Linked DNA regions of Homo sapiens. The protein of the gene in region 1 purifies or fractionates together with the protein of each later gene. This does not show direct contact. Each region holds a gene or a part of one and is shown on either strand. Other genes may lie near its edges.

What was found. Proteins that work in one complex are often made in the same cells at the same time.
Region 2: the proteins of GPR17 (region 1) and IPO13 purify together in Homo sapiens (co-immunoprecipitation; 2 studies listed by BioGRID and IntAct, with this or other methods). This does not show direct contact.

The regions. Positions count from the first base shown.
Region 1 is NC_000002.12:127,644,384-127,648,130, forward strand, and holds the start of GPR17 (uracil nucleotide/cysteinyl leukotriene receptor), read left to right. Parts: upstream 1-1,769; 5' UTR 1,770-1,861; intron 1,862-3,263; coding exon of another isoform or gene 3,264-3,361; exon of another isoform or gene 3,362-3,456; intron 3,457-3,653; exon of another isoform or gene 3,654-3,747. UniProt on the Homo sapiens protein: Dual specificity receptor for uracil nucleotides and cysteinyl leukotrienes (CysLTs). Signals through G(i) and inhibition of adenylyl cyclase. May mediate brain damage by nucleotides and CysLTs following ischemia.
Region 2 is NC_000001.11:43,949,811-43,953,557, forward strand, and holds part of IPO13 (importin-13), read left to right. Parts: coding exon 1-343; intron 344-3,652; exon of another isoform or gene 3,653-3,673; intron 3,674-3,747. UniProt on the Homo sapiens protein: Functions in nuclear protein import as nuclear transport receptor. Serves as receptor for nuclear localization signals (NLS) in cargo substrates.

The sequences.
Region 1 (3,747 bases):
GTTGTGGCCTGTGGCTTCAGTCTTCATCACCACAATCCCTGAAGCCCACCCTTGCCCAGACACCTGTGCCCCAGCCCCAACCCCAGGCCACCTCCTCAGCAGGTCTGGGGCTGAGCTGCCCCACCTGGCGCCTATGGCGGCCAGCCCATGCCCCCTGCGGTGCCTCTGTCCCAGACTCAGCATGTAGGCCCCATGACCCCACTCCACATTCTGGTGACTCCTCCTGAGCGTCAGGACAACACTCAACCCACGAGGAATTATTTCTGTCTCAAAGATGCAGGAATCAGCTCAACGCCTCAAAACTCCATCACCACGGTCAATGCCCTTGAAGCCATCGACAGTGATCACCCCAATAACAGAAGGTCTGTGAGCCCAGAAATGCCCTGCTCAGGGTGGTTAGCTTCAAGCCACCACCTTTCCAACCAGCCTGGGCCAGTTCTTCCAGACAGCCGCCTGCGGGCACAACAGGAAAGAGACCTGCGCCCCGGCTCAGACACCTCACACCCAGCTGGCTCTCAGGCCAGACAAACTGGGAAGCCCATCTCTCTTGAAGGAAGTCCAGATGGGAAACAGCTTCTCAACAGACCAGATCACAGCATCAGATCTAAAGGTGGCCTTCAGAATTCTTTTTCAGGTTGAATTAGGATCAAATCTAAGAATTCTAAATTCAAAATGCAGCAGAAAAACAAAACACACACACACACGGAGCCTAAGTTCTGGAGTGACATGTGCTTGGGTTCAAATCCTGGCTCTGTTGCTTCCTACTGTTTGTTGATGGGTGAGTTTCTTCATTTGCCTGAGCCTCAGTTTCCTTGTCTGTAAAATGGGGCAATAATCCCAGCTGCACAGGGTGATGTGAAGAGACAAATTTAAGACACTGCCCCTTAAATGCTAGCCACATACATACAGTTTTCAATGTTTAAACAACAAAATGTAAAGTCTTTTGAAACCAGGAAGGGTGATTTGGTTTCCCATGTTGCTGGATGTATCATTTTCAGAAAGACAGAGAGAAATGAACTTTGTTCACTCAGTCTCAGAGGCGGCCGCCGGCAGCATTCAAAGGCACCCCAGCCCGGAGCCACCCCAGGGAGGAGCCCCAGGCCAGCGGTCAGATTCATGGGCTTCCGTGCAGAAGGGGAGCTGCACCGGCGAGCACCCGGCCTCTGAGCTGAGCCGCATCCTCACGGACAGGACAGCGCCCCATTATGAGGCTCCTGCAGCTGTTCCTCGCTCCAGATAAAGGCCATGATTTATTCTGTGTGCCCAAATGGGGCCTCATTATACAGGGCAGGACACAAGGACCCTACAGCAAGTGTCCTCAAAGAGTCGCCTCTCACTCCGTGAGCAAGACTCCTCGGCCTCCCACCCTCCGTTCACAGGCCCCCTCCGCCGTCTGCGGGCGCAGGCCTGGGAGCGCCGCCTGTTGCCATGACAGCCGGCCCCTCCCTGCCCCCCATCAGTAGGAAATCATCCCCTTCTGAAACGTCCTGTTGTGTCCCTCAGCTCCAGCCCAAGCCCCCCACCCAGCCCCCGCCTGCTCTGAGTCTCTGAGACAGTCACACACTCAGACTATGTGGCCAAGCTGGGGGCGGGGGGCATGGGCTAGGGACACACTAGAATATTCACGCTCCGGTGGCAGCAGCAGCAGCAGCCAGAGGAGCAGCCCGACACAACAAGGGACCCCTCAGGAATGAAGCAGCCTTTCAGGGCCAGAGGGGCTGTGGTCTCCCTTCCTCTCCTTAAATAGCCAGCGTTCCACCCACAGCGGCAAGGAGCCCCCTGCCACCACCGACACCCACGGGCGGAGATCACCTGCTGCCCCGCAGACCCCTGTCCCTTCCTCCCGGACCAGCAGCTAGAGGTAAGGGGCAGGCTGGGTGGGGTGGACTGGGAGCCCAGGGCTAAGCAGAGGAAACACTCAGCGGGGAGCCCTGCCCAGGGAGACAGGCAGCAGCCTGTCTCGTCCCATCTCTTTGGTGATGGTCTGACCTGTGCATCGAAGGCTGACCACAGTCTGAATTCACAGCAGCCCACAAAGCGGTGTTTCGTCCCTCTGATGGGGGCTTGCAGAGGGGAAGTGGCTTGCCGGCAGTCCAGGCTGCAATGACAGCACCGCTGCCCCTAACCATTAGGCAGCCTTGACCCATAGAGGAGCCAGATGCCTGGGAGAGGGCTCGGGCCAGGGATGGAGTGGCGCTAATGCAAAGGAAACTGCCACCACCTGGCCATGGCGCTGCCACCACAGGCCCTCCCCGAGGCCACACATGCCCACCTGCCACCTCCACAGAGGCCTATGACCTGTCCTAGATGCTCGACTCACCCACAGCCACGGGACCCAACACTGCCCAGGCCCCGGCCCATGCCACGCCCTTTCCTCTTACGGACACCGGCTCGGTGGCCGTCTGACCAGTGAGTCGTGAGGAACCAGCGAGTCTAGACTGAAGTTTGTGTTTCTAAAGGGCAACAGAGAGTGAAGCGGGGCCCATCTCAGACCAAACTGCAACAATCAGTATCAGAACTCCTCAAACGGGGGACAGAAAGGGAGAAGAAACCTCAGCAAACCTGAAACCAACCAGAAAGCTGTTTAAAATGGAGTCTCAGTCCCAGAGAGAGCGAGGGGCACGCCCTTCGGCCCGGGCAGGAAGTGGAGGGCAGTGCCCAGGCTGAGGCCCCCGGGCTGGAGGCAGGAGGCACCACAGGCCCACCTGGTGCCATGAGATATGCCACCCCTGCCGTCACTCAGGGCCCTGAGCCCAGTAACACTCTGCCGTCACTGTCCTGAAACTCTTCCTTTTTGAGCAAGGGGCTGCACATTCTCATTTCATACATGGGCCCCTAAAATGAGGGAGTGGCCCCAGGGCCAGGAGGGGGTGCTGAGCCTGGGAGACAACTCCATGGCAAACTCTGAGACTGAGTCACACTCCCCACCCTGGCGGTCTTCCAGGGAGTGAGACCGTTTCCCCGGTCTCACTTCCAGCTCCAGGGCCAATGTCCCCTGGTCAAGTGACCTAAGACAAGTTAGCAGACACTCAGCCTTGACTCCCTAACCTGCAACATGGGGCTAAAACTGGTTTGAGCCAGCACAGGCAGGCCCCCACCATGCCAGGCAGAGTGGTCAGTCGTACCTATGAGCTGCTCTCTCGTGGGGCCAGGTGATGCCTGCACTGTGGGGCACAGCACAGGCCTGAGGGACAGCCTGGGGTGGAGGGCACCCACCTTGGCCCCTTCCCACCCCCAGGTTCTAACAAGGGCCCCTCACTCACTGGGCCCCCTCTCCTCTTCCAGTCTCCAGGGCCTCCCCGCACACACCTTCCTCCTCTCCTGCCAACCTGAAAACAGCACACCTGTGTGCCCCTCCCATCTACCATGGGCTGTCCTCTCTGCTTGCCCATGCGTCTGCCCTGGAGCCCTGTTCCTCCAGTCTCCGGGTCCTCACCCCCAGCACATGCAACACGACACCCTCAAAGTCATGGGCCCCCCTCCCCTGCCACCGTCCCACCGGTACCTGCTCCCTGTTCTCCCCTGCCTCACAGGCCCTGTCAAGGGCTGTGTTCCTCCCTCCTTTTACCTCTCCTCCACAGCCCCCTTCACAGCCCTCAGCCCTTCCCCAGGGCTTCAGCCAAGCCTGTCTCCCTCTCCCAAGCATCACTCACCCCGCCTTCTTCGGCCCTCAGCTCTCCGCCCTCACCGTGGTTTTAGCAGTCCTAGGGAAAGTGCCAGCCGAGACCAGCCAGACCAAGTCAGAGT
Region 2 (3,747 bases), on another chromosome or scaffold:
AGGGCCGCTGCCTAGCCCTGTTAGAGCTGCTGACAGTGCTGCCTGAGGAGTTCCAGACCAGTCGCCTACCCCAGTACCGCAAAGGCCTGGTGCGGACCAGCCTGGCGGTGGAATGTGGGGCTGTCTTCCCGCTGCTGGAGCAGCTGCTACAGCAGCCCAGCTCACCCAGCTGTGTGCGTCAGAAGGTGCTCAAGTGTTTCTCCAGCTGGGTGCAGCTGGAGGTGCCGCTGCAGGACTGTGAGGCGCTCATTCAGGCTGCCTTTGCTGCTCTGCAGGACTCGGAGCTCTTCGACAGCAGTGTGGAGGCCATTGTGAATGCCATCTCACAGCCTGATGCCCAGAGGTGAGCTAGTACCCACTCACCCAGAAGACAACCTCTTTGGCCAGCCACACATCCATCCATCCATCTGTTCAATAAACATTAATTGAATGTGTACTGATACCTGGTCCTATGCTGGAGATACAGCAAGGAACCAAAGAAGACATGGTCCCTGTCCTCATGGTTCAGACAGGGAGGCAGACATTAAACAACTAATTATCAGTTATTCAATTAAAATATTTGACTCTCTTTTCCTTCTCTCAACTAGTCACCAAGTCCTGGCTGTTCCCCTCCTGACCATATTGCAAATCTATTTTTTTCCATTTCCATTGCTACCACCTTAGTCCAAGCTGTCATCATCTCTCTCCCCAGATTACTGTAGAGCTTGTCCTCACTCTTGTACCCTTCATTGTCCCAGCAGCCACAGTGATCTTTTGAAAATGGGGATCTAATCTTTCTGATCAGAAGCTTTCAGTGGCTTCTCAATGCTCTTAGGTTAAAGCTCAGAATCCTTAATGTGACTCATAATGGTGCTGCACAGTATGGCATCACTGGCCTCATCTCATGCTACTCTCCTTGCTCTCTACACGCTCACACAGTTTCTTTAATTCCTTGAATGTCCCATGTTCCTTTCAGCCTCTGGCTCATTACATATACTTGACACCTTGCCTCAGCTTAAACTTCATTTCCATAGGGAAGTCCTCCATGGATTCTTAAGGCTAAGTTTGATCTTCTCTCTTATATTACCTCAGAGCTCCCAGTATTTTTCCTTCTTAGCCCATAACATGATTTCTCTCACCTCTGTGAGGACAGGGACTCTGTCATTTTACTTTGTCGCATTGTGCTCGGCACATGGTAGCATTTGATATTTTGTGAATGGAGGAAAGTAGGAGTTGCCTGAGTTGGGAGGGGTGGGGCTGGAAGGGATTGGGGGAGGAAGGTGGATTGTTCTAGGCTTTAGGAACCACAGCATGTGCAAAGACTTGTGGGCAGCATCATGATATATTCAAGGGCCCTAAAGAAGTGAGTGTAGTGAAGTGTTTGGCAAATGTTCATTGAGCATGTCCTGTTTTGGGCCCTGTGCTGAGCTCTGGGAGCACAGAGACAAATGCTTTAGCTTCAGTCTCAGGAGCTCACAGTCTAGTGGACACATGAGTGGCAAGTACAATCAACATGATGAATCCTCTGATGGAGAACGCAGGGGCCTTGAAGAACCCAGAGGAGGCTTTCACTGAGTCTGAGGGCTGTGAAAGGATTCGCAGAGGAAGTGACAACCCAGCTGTGTAAGAGTTAGCCAGATGGAAGTGATGGATGGGGAGGACATTCCAGCCCAAGCAAGGGAAGGGTGAAAGCCCAGAGGGTCTGGTGATCTGTAAATCATTAGATGTGATTAGACAGCAAGATTTAAGGGCCAGAGGTATAGGAGACCTGGGCCCAGATCATGCAGGACCTTGGCCAAGTTTAAGATTTTGATCTTCATCCTGAAGACGATATAAAGATATTAAAGGATTATAAGCAGAGAAAATGGCCTACTGAGACTTTTGGTATGAGCTGGATTAGAAGAAGTGAGACTGGAGGTCCTGATGCTGACATTTCAGAGATGGGGCTTTGGGACCTTTGGCAGAATTGGAAGGGAAAACCATTGAAAGAGACTTCATGGAAGAGTGGCTGATGACTCAAGCCTTGGCATTAGTCACATCTAAGTTTGAATCCCAGATGGTTCACTTATTAGATCTGAAATCTTGGATCAGCCATTCCTAAGGCTCCGTTTCCTCATCAATAAAATGGGGATGATCATATCAACCCCACAGAGTTGAAAAGGTTTAAACAGGATAATGTGCACAAGTCCTGCCCCTGGTGTTCGGTAGAGAATATTTTGACTCCTTGAGTAATGGGAGTTCTTTTGTGGTCTCTGCTAGGGTTGGGATGGTCAGTAGCATGCATTTGTACCTTTGGGTTATTGATACGTTACATGTTTTAAAATGGGAACTGTGTGTATATGTTCTACCTTTATACTTTATGTGATCAGTTAATGGTAATTGTTTATTTATTTATTTTGAGACAGAGTCTCACTCTGTCACCCAGGCTGGTGTGCAGTGGCACAATCTCGGCTCACTGCAACCTCCGCCTCCCGGGTTCAAGCGATTCTCTTGCCTCAGCCTCCAGAATAGCTGGGATTACAGGCGTGCATCACCACGCCCAGCTAATTTTTGTATTTTTAGTAGAAACGGGGTTTTGCCATGTTGGTCAGGCTGGTCTTGAACTCCTAACCTCAGGTGATCCATCTGCCTCCGCCTCCCAAAGTGCTGGGATTACAGGTATGAGCCACCATGCCTGGCCAACTGTTCATTTTTTTAAAGAGAAACATAGTTACTATTAAATGGATTAAGGCTGTTTACTTTTAGTACTGGTCATAAGAAGTAGAACTGGAATCATGCAATAGAAAGTGGGCCTAGTTGTTCAGTGGCTAAATTTGAAAAGGAGTTGGTTTCCTATATATATATGTGTGTGTATACATACATATATTTATATGTATATGATACACACACACACATAGATAATGTGCTTAATCACTGCCTTTTGAAACTTTAAATAAAATATTGGGTTGATTTTAAAAAATAAAAGATTGTTTCGGTATGAGGATTAAATAAGAGAATGTGAAGCTTTTAGCATGGTTCCTATATACTCTGTAAACGGCAGTTGCCAGTATTTGGTTTCATTATTGTGTTGGGAGTTATTATGATACTTATCCCCTGGCTTCCCAGGCTTTCCAGCTTAAGGTGGATACCTAATCCCAGATCTCTTGGCAGCCTGAAGCTCAAGTGCTGGGTGGGCTCTGACAGTTGGTGACTAAGGGAAACAGATCAGGGCAAGTGTGTGGGTGATGTGAGGTGTCCTTGGATACACCCAAGTTTACCCGCCCAGCCAGTCTCAAGGGCTTTGGCAGGTAATTGATGCCCCTTCTCCTCTGAACGAATGAGCGAGCAAGGAGCCAGTGAGGTAACCCACAGCCTCCTTGGTGCCCATTGGCTGCAGCCCCTTGGTTGCTTAGCAACTCTCCCCATTTTCTCAGCTCTGCTCCTGAAGCAAAGCTCTAATTGCAGGTCTGGGCTGAGCTCCGTGTGAGCAGCAGCAGAGGAGTCCCAGCAGCCCTGCCTCGGCTACTTGAACTGACCGATTGGAGCCAGGCCTCTTGAACCCAGCCTCAGCTGTGGTCATAAAGACATCCTCCCTGTCTCCTTCCCCCAAACCTAGAAACCTCTGGGACCTCAGACTTGTTCTTCTGTCCACTCACAGGTCGCAGACACAGGTGCTCAGGTGGTAGGAAATTTATGCAAGAACTTCTTCCCATGGGTGAGCTGCATCCAGCCCAGAATCCGAGCCTGGCCCTTGCTCTCCCCAGTCTAATTTCCCAGCTTTGGCTTGTG